Regions from separate parts of the Homo sapiens genome. Here regions 1, 3, 4 and 5 are each reported to be linked to region 2. Evidence: microRNA targets listed by miRTarBase, many of them from high-throughput screens and not tested one by one. Region 2 holds a microRNA gene; each other region holds the end of a gene's coding sequence. Distances are between the middles of the regions.

Region 1 (3,691 bases), not on the chromosome of region 2:
TATTCCTCAACGTTTCGAAGACACACAATAACACACACTGGCGAGAAGCCATATAAATGTAAGGAATGTGCGGAAGCCTTTAGTTATTCCTCAACTTTTCGAAGACATATGATTTCACACACTGGAGAGAAGCCACATAAATGTAAAGAATGTGGGGAGGCCTTCAGTTATTCTTCGGCTTTTCGAAGACACATGATAACACACACTGGAGAGAAACCCTACGAATGCAAACAATGTGGGAAAACCTTCATTTATCTCCAGTCCTTTCGAAGACATGAAAGGATTCACACTGGAGAGAAACCCTACGAATGCAAACAGTGTGGGAAGACCTTCATTTATCCCCAGTCCTTTCGAAGACATGAAAGGACTCATGGTGGAGAGAAACCCTATGAATGCAACCAGTGCGGGAAAGCATTCAGTCACCCCTCCTCCTTTCGAGGACACATGAGGGTGCACACTGGAGAGAAACCCTATGAGTGCAAGCAATGTGGGAAAACTTTCAATTGGCCCATATCTTTACGAAAACATATGAGAACACATACTAGAGAGAAACCCTATGAATGTAAGCAGTGTGGGAAAGCCTTCAGCTTGTCTGCTTGCTTTCGAGAACATGTGAGAATGCACCCTGAAGACAAATCCTATGAATGCAAGCTATGTGGGAAAGCTTTCTATTGCCACATATCCTTACAAAAACATATGAGAAGACATACCGCAGAGAAACTCTATAAATGCAAGCAGTGTGGGAAAGCTTTCAGTTGGCCTGAACTTTTGCAACAACATGTGAGAACGCACACTGTAGAGAAGCCCTATGAATGTAAGGAATGTGGGAAGGTCTTCAAATGGCCATCATCTTTACCAATACATATGAGACTGCACACTGGAGAGAAACCTTATCAATGTAAGCATTGTGGGAAAGCATTCAATTGTTCCTCATCCTTAAGGCGACATGTGAGAATACACACTACAGAAAAACAGTATAAGTGTAATGTAGGACATCCTCCTGCAAATGAATTCATGTGCAGTGCTTCAGAAAAGTCACACCAGGAGAGAGATCTGATCAAAGTTGTAAATATGGTGTTGCCTTTATGAGTTCCTTATCCTGAAAGTGGACACTCAAGGAGTGTGTCTGTAGTTCATTTGCAAATAAACATTTAGTTGAAAAATAATTCTCCAAATACTCTCAGCTATCCTACATGAATTTGAACAGGTAGTTTCTTACGATTCAGTAAATAAAACTTTCATCTTAGAGTGTTTTGGACTCATGGATGATTTGAAGTGTATTTTTAATATGCAAGTAGGTTCAAGTTTTATTTAATTTCTTAAATTGTAACTGACTTAGTGTGACAGGTATTGGATATTACGTATCTATTATATTTTCCACCTTTTTTACTGGGAGTATTTTTATTGTTTGGCCAGAGGAGCCTTATTCCATTTTTTAAGAAGTAGTTGGCAGAATTTTGTAATTATGCAAAGTTGTTTAAGGAGTATAGCCTCAAATGAATTGTAATTTTTAATGTTTGCCCATTGCTGTTTGTCTTTGCTTGTGATTGTGAATTGGACAGTAGGCTTTGACTTGTGATGTGACGGAGAAATCCAGAGTTGCAGATAGTTCTTCTGCATTGTTGTCAGTGTGGGTAGTGTTAGGAACTTCATTTGCTGGAATGCATTTCCTTTATGGTTCCATGTCCAAATTTACCAATAGCAATAACTTGAATGAAATTTAGAATGAAGAAGAAGTAAGTCATCGCTGAGCTTTTGGGGTCACATTAAATGGAGATGGACAGATGCATAGGGGCTTTGTGAACATCAACCTTCAGCTTATTTTCCAGATTCTTATTCCTGCCAATCAAGAGTACCATCAAAAGAAACACTTAAGTGCTTGATTTCCACTGTGTCAGAGGTGTAGTCTTCCTCAGACATCTCCATTAACTTGATATTAGGGATATTCCTGTGTGGTCAGTCACCTAGAGTCTGGATTTTTCTCAAAACCCTGCATGACCTCTTGACCACTGATTCAGACTGTCTTGTTTGGCAGTCTCTGAGCTTCTGATTCTCCCGTTCTGTAGATCTTAACATATTTGCATGGGGTCTAATTTATATAGTGAACACCTTGTTATCTTAATACTTCCAGTGGCTCTGTGATCCTGATTCCACCACGAAAGCCACAGTGTTGCAGTCAAAGAAGAAAAACAACACATGGGACTTTGTACCCTATTGCATTTTTAAGTGTGCCTGCCGAGTCCTATGTGAGAACAAATACCTTCCTCATATATTAGATTTAGGGAGATTTCTGTTACTCAGAACTAAATGCAGTTTCTTGATATAGGTTAAATTATTAGGTTTGATTATGTATCATTAAAAATAATGTGGATTTTGTTTCAAGGAAAACCTTCTGTAGATATTTCTTAGAAATATCCTGTTTAGCTGGGCACAGTAGCTCATGCCTGTAATCCCTGCACTTTGGGAGGCTTGAGGTCAGGAGTTTGAGACCAGCCTGGTTAACATGGTGAAACCCTGTCTCTACTAAAAACACAAAAATTAGCCAGGCATGGTGGTGAGTACCTGTAACCCCAGCTACTTGGGAGGCTGAGACAGGAGAAGTGCTTGAACCTAGGAGGCGGAGGTTGCAGTGAGCCAAGATCACACCACTGCACTCCAGCCTGGGAGACGGGGAAAGACTCCATCACACAAGCAAGAAAAGAAAAAAAAATCCTATTTACTGTGCTTTCAAATTAGTTGTTTAGAGACTATATTAATTTCCCAGGGCTGCCATAACAAAGTACAAAAACTGGGTGACATAGGAAAACAAACTTTTTGTTTCTCAGTTCTGGACCCAGAAATCCAGAAACAAGGCATTGGCAGGACCATGCTTTTTCTGAAGATGCTAGGGAAGGATCTGTTTCAGAACTCACCTAGCTTCTGGTAGTTCCTTAGCTTGTGGCAGCATAACTCTAATTTTCACATGGCATTCTCCCTGTGTGTGTGTCTCTCCATGTGACAATATTTTTATACATACACACCACTCATTGGGTTAGGCCCCACTCTACTTCAGTATGATTTTACCTTAACTAATTACATTGGCAACAGCTCTCTTTTCGCATACTGAGGCACCGCGAATTAAGATTTCAACGTAAAAATTTTAGGAGACCCAATTCAACCCATAACACTAAGAAATGTTATTTTTTGTTTACCGAGAGAATTACAGATTTCAAATCAACTTTGTAATTTTGATAATTTAAGCATGTTACATTTTGAATCAGTATTACCAAGTATATACAAATACAGGTATTTTTTCATATAAATGTTATTTTTAATTGCTGTATACTTAACATTTGCCATTAAAATGATTTTTTTTTTTTGAGACAGAGTCTCGCTCTGTCACCCAGGCTGGAGTGCAGTGGCACGACCTTAGCTCACTGCAACCTTCATCTCCCAGGTTCAGTTGATTCTCCTGCCTCAGCCTCCCGAGTAGTTGGGATTACAGGCATGCACCACCACACCCAGCTAATTTTTTTATTTTTGGTAGAGATGGGGTTTCACCATGTTGGCCAGGCTGGTCTTGAACTCCTGACCTCAGGTGATCTGCCCACCTTGGCCTCCCAAAGTGTTGGGATTACAGGCATGAGCCACCACACCCGGCCTAAAATGATTTCTTATTTGTGGTTAATAACAATTAAAAAGCGGAAATAAT
Region 2 (3,691 bases):
CTTAGATATTTTCACAAAAGTCCCAGTAAATATTGAACTCTAATCCACTTATATTACTTAAAATTCTGCATGATCACAGTTGTATATTTTTTTACATACATAAACTATCTGATGTTATTCTTTTTTAATATAGGATTATTCATACAAATATTTCCATGTTCTGGTATTATCTAAAGATTTATAATTTTGAAAAAAAGAGTATTATTCAATAAACCATAATGGCCAATCCTATTCCAAATTTATTAAAAATGAGTTTAGATTCAAACCCACTCCCCTATATGCATTATTTGTCCCACTCAAAAGTTTATCCTGGAAGAGCAATATTATCCTTTATATTACCCTTTCCCAGAAGAGAAAAATTTTTAAATGTGCCTCATTTAATGACTTTAAAATACATACAAAACATTCTTTCAAGCATTTTTTTTGAAAATTGAGTAAAAAATGTTTAACAAAAAAGGTGTTAACTTTATGTTTTAAGGAAAAATATTGAAAATGTTATCCTGGAGTGCCTCACCTTAGGATGACTCTGCTGCCGTCCTAGCTTTCCCTTTGGAGTCTGAAGGACGGGTGTAGTCTCCTTAATGTTCTGGCTAGGTCATTGTCTCATTCTGGGAGCTGTCAAGCACTCTCCTGAGCCTTGCAGGGTCCAGTAGAATAATTCCATACGTGAACTCTCATAGGCAGCATTTGCAACAGGTGGTACAAGGCATTTAAGATTGGGTAGAACGATGTCGATATTCTGTGAGTAATTTTTATATTGTCTTCCTGTTTATATTCTACATTTTGTAAGTATTGTTTAGGACTTTATTTGCTAGTAATGGGACTTTTATTTAAGGCAAAAATCTGCATCGTGCAATGTATCTTGCAGAAGCAGAGATGAATTTTAGCAGATGACATATTGCCATAAGACAAGATTGTTTAAATGAGAGAAATTTAACTTTAATCATATTTGTGCTTTGTAGTTTTGCCCCATCATTCAGTTTTTTAATTAAAGAAACTATAATGTCAGGTTTGGTTAAAATATCATTGTCAGAAAATTTGAAACTCACTGGGATCTTAGCTTTAAGACTGAGACTTTCATTTTAAAAATAAAATAGCTGAATGAAAAATAGTTTGCTTTAGTTAAGAATACATACATAAAGTGTTTAATTGTTAAATGTGAAAAAAGTTTTGAGTAGCCTTGTGTTACATTTTTTAAGCTTGACCAGAATCTAAGAAAGATGAAAATTAATTTCAAATACTGAAGCTAAAACATGTTAATGAACTAAATAAAAGTTGACACATTTCTAATTTTATCCATCTTCCCACCTTTTACCCTTAAGTATTTAAAGTATTCATAGACAAAAGCCATCCCTTATCATTTCACTCCAGTTAACAGTGCATAAACTGAAGTTTGGATATTTTCTCAAAAGATGTGTCAAAATATACATTTCAAGTGCATTAACCACTTTCCTTATGCTTCTGAAGATAAATGAATTGCCTGAACATCTCAAGATCTTGAAAGTTTATAGTGATGGAAGCATAGGTTGCAAGTGAATGTGTTGGCCTTGTAAATTCTACTCCTAGAACTGTAGCATAAGCACCTTCTTAATTAAAGAATGACGCAGTCATAAATTTATGTATACCATGACGCGTGGAAGTATCAAAAATTTCAACTTTCCATATGTCAAAAGAGGAGAAACTATTATTTTAATATAGTTGAACACTAGTTGGAAATAGTAGTCTTTTCACTGTGTTTTGCCCAGACCCAGACTGGCAGAGTTAACCCAGACTGGCAGAGTTAACTCAAAGCACTTGATCCTTTGGAATACTCTTTTTCTCCCTTTTCTTTTCTCTGTCTTTCCACCCTATCCCCTTCCAAAAAAAAAAAAAAAAAAAAAAAATCATGACATAGAAAACCATACTTAGTTTATGGACAAGAATTCTTAGAATAATTTATTCTTTGTTAAGCATCAGACTGAAGTTATATTGTTTTGTTATATTGAGTTTTTATATCAATATAGGGTGCTGCAAAGCTGTGTACAATAAAGGTCAAGGGTAGTGATTTGCTGACAACAATTAGGAAAAGAGAACTATAGAATGCACAGGAACATTTTCAGAAATGGGTTTTATTATATTTCATAGGCACCACTCACTTTACTTTTGGTGGGTTTTAATACTTGAATCAAAATAAAATAATACATGAGTTAAGTATTAAACCAACAGATTAAAACCCCAGGCCCCCGAGCCCCTCATTTTGGTTGTAGCTCTTGGTGTAGATGCTATGGTGTGAGGGCTGCTTTCTTTCAATGGCTGGTTGTCATTCAGGCTGGGTTGTCATGTGACTGCCTGTCTGTGCCTGCTGTACAGGTGAGCGGATGTTCTGCACAGCAAGTGTAGACAGGCAGACACATGACAACTCTGTCCAGCCAGGCCCTTGGTTCCTTCAGGTTTCCTTTGCTCATAGACAGATACAATCAGCCTGTTTTCCAGATTTGGTGATTTTGGAGAGTAAGGGGAAAGGGAGAAAAATACACAATATAATTAAACATTAAAACATTATGGAACTAAAAACAAGTTAGACTTTTGACTTTATTCAGAAAGTACATTTATACATTTGTTCCAAATGTGCTAACATGGATAATTTGCGTAACAGAAAACTCACATTAAAATTTTAAGGAAAAAAAGAGATTAAACACAAGGTTTATTCTTAAGTCCAATTCATATTATTACTGGCCCACATGTAGTCAGAGTTCAGCGTAATTGAACCAGATGTTTTTCCTCTTTGCAAAAAACTGCATATTTTAATACTGAAGTTAAAGATAAAAACTATGTTTATGCATGTTTCTTTTAGTAGATAAGTACCATAACCTTGTCCATGAAAAAGAAAATTATCATTTACATGGAAACAGCAGCCCTTTTCAAAATAATTAATGAGCCTAATTTATTTGGCAACCCAAGTTGCTGACTTTGGTATTTGATGCTCTGATAATAGGATCCTACAAGGGAATATGTTTTTACCAATTATATGTGAAACAACAGGAACCTATTTAAATGTCTCATTTTCCTTTTAAATGCAAAGTTTATAACTGTGGATGTGAAATCAAATTAAAGGCAGTTGTGAGCTTAAGTTATCCACCTCTTAATTAACTATAGGGCCATGCTGTGAATCAAAAGGGTACAAACTGGAAGGCTGTTACTCACAGTGATGCTCAGAATGTGTTTTGGATATAGTTAGTGCAATATAGTTACAAAATAGTACTTAAGAAAAGGCAGAAAAGGCAAATTCATTTCATATCCAAAAAATTAAAACCAGATCCTTTGAAAATTTTTCTTATAATTTATATGAGCTAATAGTGTTAAATATGCAGATATAAAATTTAATTCTGGTGAGTTGAGAGTAATTCTATTTTAATATCAATTATCAATTCACATCTTTAGAAGTATTAAGCAAATTCCCCTCCCCTTTTAAAAACAAAAATATCCAAATAGTCAAAATTCCAGTAAGTAGGACTTCTTAAAAAACACAGCACCAAAAAAACACAGTATTGTCCAAGGATTGTATAATTAGACATTTTCTCAAAGAACTTTAAGAAAAACAAACAGTTTGTGATTTATCTTTAATTGTAAAATTCTGAGAAAATAGCAAATAGAAACTTAATGGAAAGCAAAATAGTTTTAGATACTGAGAAAATTACAATTTTCTACAAAT
Region 3 (3,691 bases), not on the chromosome of region 2:
CCTGTAGTCCCAGCTACTCAGGAGGCTGAGGCAGGAGAATTGCTTAAACCCGGGAGGTGGAGCTTGCAGTGAGCCGAGATCGTGCCACTGCACTCCAGCCTGGGTGACAGAGCGAGACTCCATCTCAAAAAAAAAAAAAAAAAAAAGAATGTGACATTTCTAAAATGCTGAGGACGTATTAAAATGGTGTTGATGCTAATAAATACATAAATAATTAAATACAGACGACTTACCTAGTGGTTTGCAGGGCGGATGCAAAGAGAGAATTTTACAAAGCAGCCCCTTCCTCCGGAAGGCAGGGCAGGGTTCCCTCCTTCCCAGGCTGGGAGCCCTCTGCTTGGGAAACGCCGGCTCTTCAGGGTGCGGGAGCTACCACACCTGGGGAGACTGGGCCCAGGGGACTCTCCCCCTCCTTTCTTTAAAACTTCTTGGTTTTCTCTCCCTCCTGACGGCTTCAGGATGACATGACTGACTCCCTGCGAGATTACACCAACCTGCCTGAGGCTGCCCCTTTGCTCACCATCCTGGACATGTCAGCCCGGGCCAAGTACGTGATGGACGTGGAGGAGATCACCCCCGCCATCGTGGAGGCCTTTGTGAATGACTTCCTAGCAGAGAAGCTCAAACCGGAGCCCATCTAGCGTGGCTCCGGCCTCCTGAGACGTTATTTAAAACTCAGCCTTCTCCTCCTCCCCCTCCTTCCTTCCGCCCTTGGACTTACCCAGCGTGCCCCGAATCCCACCACCCAAGTGTCCAGCCTCTCTGTGGTGCCTTGTTTCTGCAGTAAACTCCTCAGCCAGCACCCTGGGGTGTGGAATCAGCAGCGGCAGAGTCCACCGTGTTTGGAGACTCTGTTTGGGAGCACGGGATGGCCGGGGGCCCGGCCAGAGCGGGGCTGCATGGCTTTCGCAAAGTCACTAGCTTTTGGTGAAGGATCTGCCAGGGTGTCCTGGGCAGAGTGAGCGTGGAGGGCCGGTGGGTCCCGCTCGGGCTCTGACTCTGACGTCGGCACACACGGCCCCGGACGGCCAGAGGGGAACCGCCGGGTGACACCTGCGTGGAGGCTGAGCTGAGAAAGGGCCTCCGCTTAGAGCTGCGGGTGAGGACGTCCTTTTCTAAGCAACACAGTCTTCCTCGGTCTGAGAGAAAAGCAGCCCACTCTTGTGTTCTCAGGCAGGGGATCTCCAAATGCAAAAGGAAGCTTGTAGAGGTTTTTTGGGTGAGAAGAAAAATGTAGCTAAGGTAATGGTTCATATCATACAAACAGCTCCCACGATCCTGAAATTCTGTTAACGAATCCTTCTCTTTGGACATCTTCCCAAGAAACTTAGCCCTGAGTCCTAGGAGGAGCACCTCTGCACCAGCACGGACCTCTCGCTCCACCCAGCTCTGTGCCCAAGGCCCCTGATCTCTGCTGAGGTGCCCACACCCACGTTCGATCACCCCTGCCATTCCCTTTTATTTTCTTTTTTTTGAGATGGAGTCTTGCTCTGTCGCCCAGGCTGGAGTGCAGTGGCACCATCTTGGCTCACTTCAACCTCCGCCCCCAAGGTTCAAGTGATTCTCCTGCCTCAGCCTCCCGAGTAGCTGGGATTACAGGCACCCGCCACCGTACCTGGCTAATTTTTGTATTTTTAGTAGAGATGGGGTTTCACCATGTTGGCCAGGCTGGTCTCGAACTCCTGACCTCAGGTGATCCACCCGCCTCGGCCTCCCAAAGTGCTGGGATTACAGGCGTGAGCCGCCGTGCCCGGCCCCCTTTTCTTTTCAAAGCAGAACTACAAAGATGAGAAATTACCAGAAGCCTCGCCTTTTCCTAAGCACCAGCGGAAGGAGCTGTGCCCCGGGATGGAGTGAGGGTGGAGGGCGCGTCAGCCACGGGTGGGCCTTGTGTCGCCTTGTATCGGCCCAGGTAGGTTGTTGGCCTCTTACTTGGGCTGACCTGACCCCCGAAAGAGAAACAGACAACTCTGTTCTCAGGATTGGGGATGGACGGCTTCGGCCAAGCGTTTTAGCCTCATTCACTCAGGCCCCACTCAGCACTCTGCCAGCCAAGACCATTGATTTGGAAAATCCGGTCCCCACCCGCTAATGAGCTGTTGACACTGTTGTTCCTTGCTGAATTGGATTGTTGACTTGTAGTTCAGAGGCGTACAACTAGTTGGCGATTAGACTTGTTATGTGATGTTACCAGCCTGAAATGCGATCACCCCGTAGGAAATAAAGCAGGCATCTCTGGACCTCATCCACCCTGGGCCTCTGCTGTCCTTGATCACAAAAGTTGTTTTTGCTTGTGGTCCTGTGCTCTATCGGGGTGGGCAGTGGAGGATACCTGGTAGCTGGGAGCTGAGTCCCAGGAGTTTTGAGACCCCCAGGATGTAGCATCTGTCACATCCTCTTGGCTTCCGGCAGCCAGGAAGCTCATTTGGATGACCGTGGCAGAGGCAGATCCCTCCTGCAGCCCTGGCCACCGTCTCTCCTGGTTTGACTTGGCCCTGGACGGAGGGTGAATCCTCAGATCGCGTACCTTGCTGTGGACATTCTTGCCCATTTCCTCCCTCCAGGGGAGCCGAGTCCTCTGAAGCCTGAGAAAGCTGGTTGGGAGAACAGGAGGAATCACGCACGGGTCTCCTTGTGAAGAATGGGCCAAGTGTGGGAGCCTCTTAAACCCAGCAGGTCCCAGGCTCAAGGCTTCTCTGGGAACGCTGCCAGAGTCTCCCTTAGGGGTCGGGGTGGGTGGGATGAATGTGGCCGACCTGAATGTGGGAGGTGGCAGGATTTCTCTCCATGTATCATGATGGCCTCGGAGGAAAGGTGGGTTCTCTTAGCAGCTGCTTACCTTTGGGGCAGGAGGAACAAAGTCCAGCGAGGGGGTTGCCCTAAGTCATTGCAACTGGATTCTTGACACCAGAATTCCCCTTTTAGAGTGGGTCTGTAGCTTCCTTAAGACCCGTGGGGAAGGTTTACTCCAAAGGTTCAGGTTTATACAGTGACTGCTTTGCGGGAAACCGTTAGGGAAGAATCACTTCTGAGTGTCAGGGATCGATAGTGAGAGGTCGTAAAGGCCACAGATGCAGGCGAAGTGGGTGGCATGATAATCCCCGCCAAGCAGCTCCACCTTCAGATTCTTGTTGCTAATTGGAAGCAGGTTCAGCACCAGCTGTGGCATATTCAAGGGCTTCCTCCGGCAGCCAGGAAAACCAGGCCCTGCAGGTGGAGGCTGGGGGCGGCTGTGAAAACGCCACTCTGTGGTTCCCAGATTTGTGTTTACCACAGTGACTTCCAGATCCCATCCATTCATCCTCACAACAGCGATGAGGGTTTTTTTTTTTTTTTTTTTTTGAGACAGAGTCTCGCTCTGTCGCCCCGGCTAGAGTGCAGTGGCACGATCCCAGCTCACAGGTTCAAGCCATTCTCCTGCCTCAGTCTCCCAAGTAGCTGAGATTACAAGCGACACCACCGCGCCTGACTAATTTTTGTATTTTTAGTAGAGACGGGGTTTCGCCATGTTGGCCAGGCTGGTCTCGAACTCCTGACCTCAGGTGATCTGCCTGCCTTGGCCTCCCACAGTGCTGGGATTCCAGGCGTGCGCCGGCACAGCCAGCCTGTTGTTGTTGTTTTTTTTAACCTGTCTTCCCAACATTAAAAGCCTGTTGAAGAAAAAGGGTATGTTTTCCACATTGAATTCCTA
Region 4 (3,595 bases), 21 Mb from region 2:
GGTGCCATGACGGCACTTAGCTTTGGTGAGGTAGACTTCACCTTCGAGGCTGCTGTTCTGGCTGGCCTGCTGACCGAGTGCCGGGATGTGCTGCTAGAGTTGGTGGAACACCACCTCACGCCCAAGTCACATGGCCGCATCCGCCACGTGTTTGATCACTTCTCTGACCCAGGTCTGCTCACGGCCCTCTATGGGCCTGACTTCACTCAGCACCTTGGCAAGATCTGTGACGGACTCAGGAAGCTGCTAGACGAAGGGAAGCTCTGAGAGCCCTGAGCCTAGCACATTCCACCTTGACAAAATGGTTGACTGAGAAAACACAGATAATGGGCTTCCTAACCCTGCTCACCTGGCACTAACACTTTTCAATCTTCAGGCTTCATTCCTTCCCAAGAGTGCTTTTGACTCTGAGACCAGCCCACCCCCAAACAGCTAGTGGAGAAGGAGCAATGCTGAGGGGTGAGGCCTCTCTCCCACTCCAGCCCCAGGACAGGAAACAGAACTGCCTGAAAAAGGTGAAGTGAAACTTGGATCTCTATTTCTCCCATAAGGGACTTCTGAAACAGGGAAGCCCCCTCCCATGTGAACCAAGGAAAGGAGGCACAGCCCAGAGAACCCCTTTGGGGATACTAAAGACAGAAGAGGGGAAGGTGGCCCTTAGAGACAGAGCTTGGACAGATGCCAGAGGCTCTGTTCCAGAGTGCAGGAAGAAGGGGCTAGGGCAGGGGAGATTCTCATAGGGGAAATAAAACTACTAAAATATGCACAGGGCTCAATGTTTAATCTGTCCAGCTTCGTATACCTTATAATCATCACAGAAGAAAGGAGGTATATAAACATTACTTATCTCACCTCTCATCATTTCCAAACAGGAGACTGAGGCAGATTTCCATTATTACTGAGGTTCCCTTACCTACTTCTGTTTAAGAAACAAAACAACTGTACCATAGATCAGTGCTACAAATCGCAAATAAATATGCAGTGAGGAGGAAGGCATAGAGAGAGAGGGTCTGGAGGGGAGGGGGTGTAACAAAGAGACTCCCACAACTGGCTTCCTCTTCAAACCCCAAGGAAAGCCTTCTTCCATCTGTTCCCCTCACCACAGGCTGAGCAGAACAGGTCAGAAGGGTGAACTGGTAGAATGGAGAGTTCAGGTCCCTACAGTGCTGCTTTTTCTCAGAGTCAAGAATTGTGAAAAAGTTACAGGGAATTGGTTTGTCAAGACTGAGCCCATTCAACAGGAATGGGGTACCAAAAAAAAAAAAAAAAAGAATCAGCCCAAATCTGTCACTTTGAGATTGGAGAAAAGGCCAACAGTCATCCATTCTCTGTGGTGGGCTATATCACCGATTGCCTCATCCTCAATAACATGTTTGGCTAACAAGGTGGGGAAAGTGGAGAACCAGCAGTCACTGGCTCACTGTTCCCGGGTTCTCCTCACCCCAGGGCTATAGAAATTCCATTTTTCAGCTAAGAGTGGGAAGAAATAAAATATAGCAAATAAATATTACTTCAATATTAGCACCAAATAAATTATGTCACATAGTTGGAGATGAGGAAGAAGCTGAGGGGGAGTCTCTGCTTCCCTGTTCTAAGGCCAGGGAAAGGTAAAAAGGATAGGAAAGGCAACAAGGATATAAAAAGAGCCTTTTGAGTCTAAAGGACTCAACTCTAGATTCAGCCCAAGAACTGGGAAAGGTCCAGTTCCCATTCCCTAATCTTGCCAATAAAACTGCCCCAGGCCAAGGAATTTTTGGCAGACAAGGAGGCTGGGGAGGATGGCTGGAGTGGAGGGAGGCAGGCTCATAAGCCATGTTCTTGAGCCTCACCTCAGGCTCCTCTCCCCCTGAAGTTTCTCTTTCAACATCTTGCTTCTCTCAGTCAGTTCTGGGGACATCAGAGTTTGAAGATTTCATCCTCCTGGTCCCGTAGTGTCCGGGTCCGAGAGGTACGGGTCAGCGGCACAGGACCTAGGACTGCTCGTTGCTGCATCCAAGGGGAGCTCAGGTGGAGACCTGCATCCTCCCCAGGTACCCTGCAATTGAGGAAAGGGGGGAAAGAGTGACAGATCAAGGGAAGAACCTGACAATGGGCCAAGTGAGAGGTACATGGAAAGCTATCTTCTAATACATAAGCTGGTTGCTTCAAGACAGTCTCAGTACCCTCTAGATAAATCCTAACCCTAATGCTCCTTCATGGATGATCAGAGCAGTAAAAACAGTTAACTGTCAGCTGGCCGCTGTGGCTCACGCCTGTAATTCCAGCACTTTGGGAGGCCGAGGCTGGCGGATCACGAGGTCAGGAGATTGAGATCATCCTGGCTAACATGGTGAAACCCCGCCTCTACTAAAAATACAAAATATTAGCCGGGCGTGGTGGCGGGCGCCTGTAGTCCCAGCTACTCGGGAGGCTGAGGCAGGAGAATGGCGTGAACCTGGGAGGCGGAGCTTGCAGTGAGCCAAGATCGCGCCACTGCACTCCAGCCTGGGCAACAGAGCAAGACCCCGTCTCAAAAAAAAAAAAAAATAGTTAACTGTCTGACTCCAATAAGAACACAGAACCCAGTTTTCCACTGCCTCTACCCAGGCCAGCAGCCATCACCTCTGCTCATTATCTTGGGGCCACATGGGGGAAAGGTATCACCTTGCCTCTGTTGGCACTGTCCTTACTTACTTGTGTTTGTGGTTAGGTAAGACAGGAATGATGGAGGAGTCTAGGGAGGAACTTATAAGGAACCATTCAAGACTCACCCATTTTCCCCTTTTTTCAGCTTCTGAGCAGCAGCCTTCTTGGACAGGCTGATCTGTGAATCAAGCTTCTTAAGGAAATCAGAGGCAGAGAGGTCATGGATGGGCGTGGGGGTTTCCTGGCCAGGTGTGGGGAGGACTTCACCATTGGCACGTCCTGCTCCTGTCTCTTGTTTCTTCCTCTCAGTTGAGTGTGGCCAAACTTCACTGTTACTTGGGTGTACTTTTTCCTCTCCATCTTTCTCTTCCTCAGAGTCCAAACCATTGAACAGGTCTCTGGGCTCTGTCAGGATGGGGATGTAGAGGGTTTTCTTCAGGAAGATGGAGTCATTAGTATAAAGGCGGTTTGCACGTTTAATCTGTTCCATCTTAAAAAAAAAAGTCACCAAAATTAAGGACAGTAATAATGATCAATCTTACATCTTGAGCTTTTTAAAGTGACTGTACAGAGTCTTCTTTGATTCCATAACAACCAAGCTAAAGTACAAAGGGCTGACATTATTTCTATTCTATAGATGAGTGGTTTTCACACTTTTTGGTCTTAGGGCCCCCTTACATTTTAAAAAATTATTGTGCAAGCCAGGCGCAATGTCTGATGCCTATAATTCCAGCTACTCAGGAGGCTGAGGAGGGAGGATAGCTTGAGCCCGGGAATTAGAGTCCAGCCTGAGTAATATAGTGAGACGCCATTTCTAAAAATTAAAAAATTAAAAATAAATGAATAAATAAATTAATGAATAAATAAAAATGAAGGAACTGAGGCTCAGAGAGGTTAAGCTACTTTCCTAAAATTATCTATCAAGTTAATGACAGAGCTAGAATGACAATCCTGGGTCTTTTCACTGCTT
Region 5 (3,643 bases), not on the chromosome of region 2:
GCCAGGTGAGTTCCTTCAAAGCTGGGGGGTGAAGGGGTGGAGGTGGAAAAGTAGGATTGAGGATGGGAAATAAAAACAAACAAATGACACCATCCAGGGAGATTTGTCACATTTTATTCAGTATTTCTGCTGCACTGCCAGCCTAGGGATGCACTTGATTCCCAAGAAATGCAACTGTCCTATTCGCAGAGCCGTCCACAGGTACCTACCCCCTGGACTGCAGCAACTTTATTACCTTAACTAGCACAGAACAGAGGTTGATTTAAACTCCTTACACTCACTTCTCAGATCAATGAATGGGCAAAGAAACACCTCATGGCTCTGGGAAGGCATGCTGAGACCCGTTTTTGCAAGTCCTGAGGAATGGAAGAATATAGCTGCCAGGTATCCCAAGTCTAGGGCAGGGAGGGTAGTATCGGCATCACTTTCACTGCATTCTGTTGGTCAACGCAAGTCAGAGGCTCAGCCCAGATCCAAGGGCAGGGAAGAGGCTCCATCGTGTAGTTGGGCTCACTTGGAAGGTAATGGGAGGAGTTGGTGGCTGCTTTAAGACACATACCACATCTAGATTTCAACCTCCAGAAAAGTCCAAAGATGCACTCACAGGAGCCCGTTAGTCAACTGAAGCTGGTTCATGGCTCTCTTCTTCAGGTGGAGACTAACCAACTCCCTGACCTCCTTCGGTTAAGTGCTCCTTCCTTTTTCCTGCTGCCTGGAATGTCTATGTGCCATCTGGAGCTATGGCAGCCTTCTTGCAACCATGAGGCAAACTCTATGTGCAAGAGCAGGTAGCTAGAAAGAGCCTGCCAGCCCTGGGCTTATATCCTGCTTCCCAGGGAGCTTAAAGATAGCAAAACCCACAGCCATTTTCATCAAATGCCAGGAAATTCTTAGGCTGGGATTGTTGGGATTGTTTGAATGGTTGAGCGTGAAAGACTTGTTATAATGGGCTTGTTGAATACGGTGAAAGATGAGATGGCTTTTAGCTGCCTCCACTCCCCGTGTCCCATGCTCCATAGATGTTTCTTTTTTTTTTTTTTTTTAATCATTTTTTGGTTATGCCAGGTGTCTCCTGTGTGTCCCTCCAGATCCCTCTCCAGCCCTAGAAACCTGAGCTCTATAAATGTTGCCTCTCTCCACTCATCTTCTCTTTGGCTTCAGGTTGAGTTCAGCCAACAGATGCCCCTGTAGGATTTGGACACAGGGAGCCAGGGGAGAGGGGCATCAGCTGCCTGGTTAGCAGGGCTGTGATGATTCTTCTACCTATGACTCTCAGTGCTGTTGCCTCTTCCTCTGGATCTTGGAAGCTTCCATGCTGAGGTCTGAAGGTGGCTCCCTGCCTCCCACTGATGTCCTTAGAATCCCATCCTCACCTAATACCTGGTATTGAACACTGCCTTTCTTAGATGTCATTTAGGCTCTCGTTTCAATTCCCAGTATGCTTCCTGCAAAGACCTCGATAGATGGACTGAGGGGAATAGTGCAAGGTCCTCCCATCCCCAGTATTGGGATCTAGGGGCAGGGGGTCCCAGCTGTGCAGTAGGTTAGGACTACACTTCCATCATCAAAGCCACAGAGGGAAGAGGTGAGGATGAAACACACTAGAATTGACTTAGAAAACACACTGGCCAAATCTTAGCTATTTGAGGAATGTAGGGAGAAAAGCCACCTTCTCTCTCTATGTCTGAAGGTTCCCATGGCTGTCTCTTTGCCCAAGGGGCAAACTTTCCATCAGGGCATCTTCTGTGCCTCTGAGGATCATTTTCCAATTATAGGCAATGGTAGTACGTGTTTCAGTGCAGAATGAGATAGAGTTGTTTAATTTGACAATAAAGCGATGCGTCAAAAACCTCAGTCAACACAGTAAGTGTTTTCTTGTTTTCCTGCTGACCAACCTAATTCTGGTTTCATACAGGGCAGCCAGGTGCCCACCTAAAAGACTGCACTTCTCAACTTCCAGTTGTTTCTATGGATAATGGTTGGAAGCAGAAATTGGGTTGGGGCTTCCAGATAATCCCCCCTCACAGGGACTGCTTCAAGAGAAAGGGATGCCCTTTGGTTCTTTCTCCTTTCCACTGCCTGGAATGTGATGTCTGACACTGTGGCAGCCATACTGGCATAATGAGGCCAACTCTCTGCCATGCTAAGAGTGGCAGAGCTGGGAATTGAAAAGAGCCTGCTAGCCTTGGGTTGCTTCCCCTTGATCGGCTCATTACTTGGAAGAGAACACACCCTTCTCTTATTATTTTCTTTAAGGCATTTTTTTTTTTTTTTTTTTAAGGCAGGGTCTTACTCTGTCTCCCAGCCCGGAGTGCAGTAGTGCAATCTTAGCTCATTGCAGTTTTGACCTCCCAGGCTCAAATAATCCTCCCGCCTCAGCCTCCTAAGTAGCTGAGACTACAGCTGTGCGCCACGACATCTAGCTAATTATTTGTTTTTTGTAGAGATGAGGTCTCACTGTGTTGCTCAGGCTGGGTAGGTGTCTAACTCCTAGGCTCAAGTGATCCTCCCACCTTAGCCTCCCAAAGTGCTGGGATTACAGGTGTGAGTCACCGTGCCTGGCTTTGTTTAAGGCATTCTTTTTCCGCAGCATCTGTTACCAGCAGCCTGAAGCCATTTCTATAACAATATCAGGAAGACACATGGACAGAGACCCTAATGTATGAAAAATGCATCAATTATTTGAGATTAATGAGTCCTCATAAACAGAGACTGAGAGGCTCTAACTTTCCTCCGCTATGTGAGAGTAGGAACAGACACTCCTCCCTGTCCTTTTGTAAGGCTGTTATGTCATCTAGGTGATGAAATTGCAACAATGCTTTAAGACGGAGGGGTGAAAACATCGGGCATTGGCACAATGACGAACCCTGAGATTTAGAAGAGGAAGAGGAGGCATCAGTGGGTGCCTACTGGGACAGTCTTATTTCACAAATCAGGAAAGGGAAACCCTACATGGGCGCAGTGGCTCGTGCCTGTAATCCCAGCACTTTGGGAGGCTGAGGCAGGTGGATGACTTGAGGTCAGGAGTGCGAGACCAGCCTGGGCAACATGGTGAAACCCTGTCTCTACTAAAACTACAAAAATTAGCTAGGCATGGTGGCAGGTGCCTGGTGCCTGTAATCCTGGGTACTCAGGAGGCTGAGGCAGGAAAATCGCTTGAACCCGGGAGGCGGAGGTTGCAGTGAGCAGAGATCGTGCCATTGCATTCCAGCCTGAGGGACAGAGCGACACTCTGTCTCAAAAAAGAAAGAAAGAAAGAAAGAAAGTGGGGACCCACTCTCAGTCCAGGGCATGTTCCTTGCAAAAAGGGAAGCTGAAGATAGAACCAAGCTTGGAGAATTTTGTTTGCAACGCAGTCAGGCTCTCCTGGATCCTCTCTCACAGTCCTGGCATTCAGGGGGTGCCATCCCCATCCTCGTGGCATGAACAGAACGGGAAATGTCCGCAGCACGGCTGCAGCCACGGCTTCCACAGGATGTTGCTCATGGAAAACTGCTGGGGCACAGGACTCAGGGTCTGCCGATGCTCCGACACCGCGGCACCTACCCTTGCTATCACGGCGTGGTACAGGGGCTCGGAGTCGGGGGTCAGGGGCCGTGCCTCGGAGGGGTCCCTGGAGAGGTCAAAGAGCAAAGGGGGTCTG

The links. Region 2 holds the annotated microRNA hsa-miR-3120-5p (CCUGUCUGUGCCUGCUGUACA, at 2,328-2,348, shown strand). A microRNA usually pairs through its seed, bases 2 to 8, with sites in the 3' UTR of a target mRNA and lowers its output. Matches are read on the target gene's strand: a 7mer-m8 pairs with bases 2 to 8, a 7mer-A1 pairs with bases 2 to 7 and ends in A, and an 8mer does both.
Region 1: the mRNA of ZNF555 is a reported target of hsa-miR-3120-5p. Seed matches in the 3' UTR shown: 7mer-A1 at 3,361-3,367.
Region 3: miRTarBase lists NXN as a target of hsa-miR-3120-5p. The part of its 3' UTR that is shown has no 7-base or 8-base seed match.
Region 4: miRTarBase lists TNFAIP8L2 as a target of hsa-miR-3120-5p. Seed matches in the 3' UTR shown: 7mer-A1 at 634-640 and 7mer-A1 at 662-668.
Region 5: miRTarBase lists ARSD as a target of hsa-miR-3120-5p. Seed matches in the 3' UTR shown: 7mer-A1 at 3,232-3,238 and 7mer-A1 at 2,294-2,300.

Annotation. Positions count from the first base shown.
Region 1 is chr19:2,852,864-2,856,554 of GRCh38, forward strand. ZNF555 (zinc finger protein 555) reads left to right here. Exons shown (of 4, transcript NM_152791.5): 4 at 1-3,691. The coding sequence ends at 1,089. Among named protein-coding and RNA genes, the nearest start is that of ZNF556, 13 kb to the right of the region's middle.
Region 2 is chr1:172,136,493-172,140,183 of GRCh38, forward strand. It overlaps MIR3120 (microRNA 3120), which reads left to right and starts at 2,316; the gene lies at 2,316-2,396. All of the region lies in intron 14 of DNM3 (dynamin 3), which reads left to right. It overlaps DNM3OS (DNM3 opposite strand/antisense RNA), which reads right to left. Exons shown (of 4, transcript NR_103486.1): 4 at 387-3,691. MIR214 (microRNA 214) reads right to left here and starts at 2,415; the gene lies at 2,306-2,415.
Region 3 is chr17:797,899-801,589 of GRCh38, reverse strand. NXN (nucleoredoxin) reads left to right here. Exons shown (of 8, transcript NM_022463.5): 8 at 459-2,280. The coding sequence ends at 641. Among named protein-coding and RNA genes, the nearest start is that of MRM3, 17 kb to the right of the region's middle.
Region 4 is chr1:151,158,986-151,162,580 of GRCh38, forward strand. It overlaps TNFAIP8L2 (TNF alpha induced protein 8 like 2), which reads left to right. Exons shown (of 2, transcript NM_024575.5): 2 at 1-764. The coding sequence ends at 267. The region is part of intron 1 of TNFAIP8L2-SCNM1 (TNFAIP8L2-SCNM1 readthrough); the gene reads left to right. It overlaps LYSMD1 (LysM domain containing 1), which reads right to left. Exons shown (of 3, transcript NM_212551.5): 2 at 2,751-3,115; 3 at 763-2,035. The coding sequence ends at 1,897. Among named protein-coding and RNA genes, the nearest start is that of TNFAIP8L2-SCNM1, 4.1 kb to the left of the region's middle.
Region 5 is chrX:2,903,878-2,907,520 of GRCh38, forward strand. It overlaps ARSD (arylsulfatase D), which reads right to left. Exons shown (of 10, transcript NM_001669.4): 10 at 95-3,643. The coding sequence ends at 3,394. ARSD-AS1 (ARSD antisense RNA 1) reads left to right here and starts at 1,027. Exons shown (of 2, transcript NR_144459.1): 1 at 1,027-1,328; 2 at 1,691-2,245.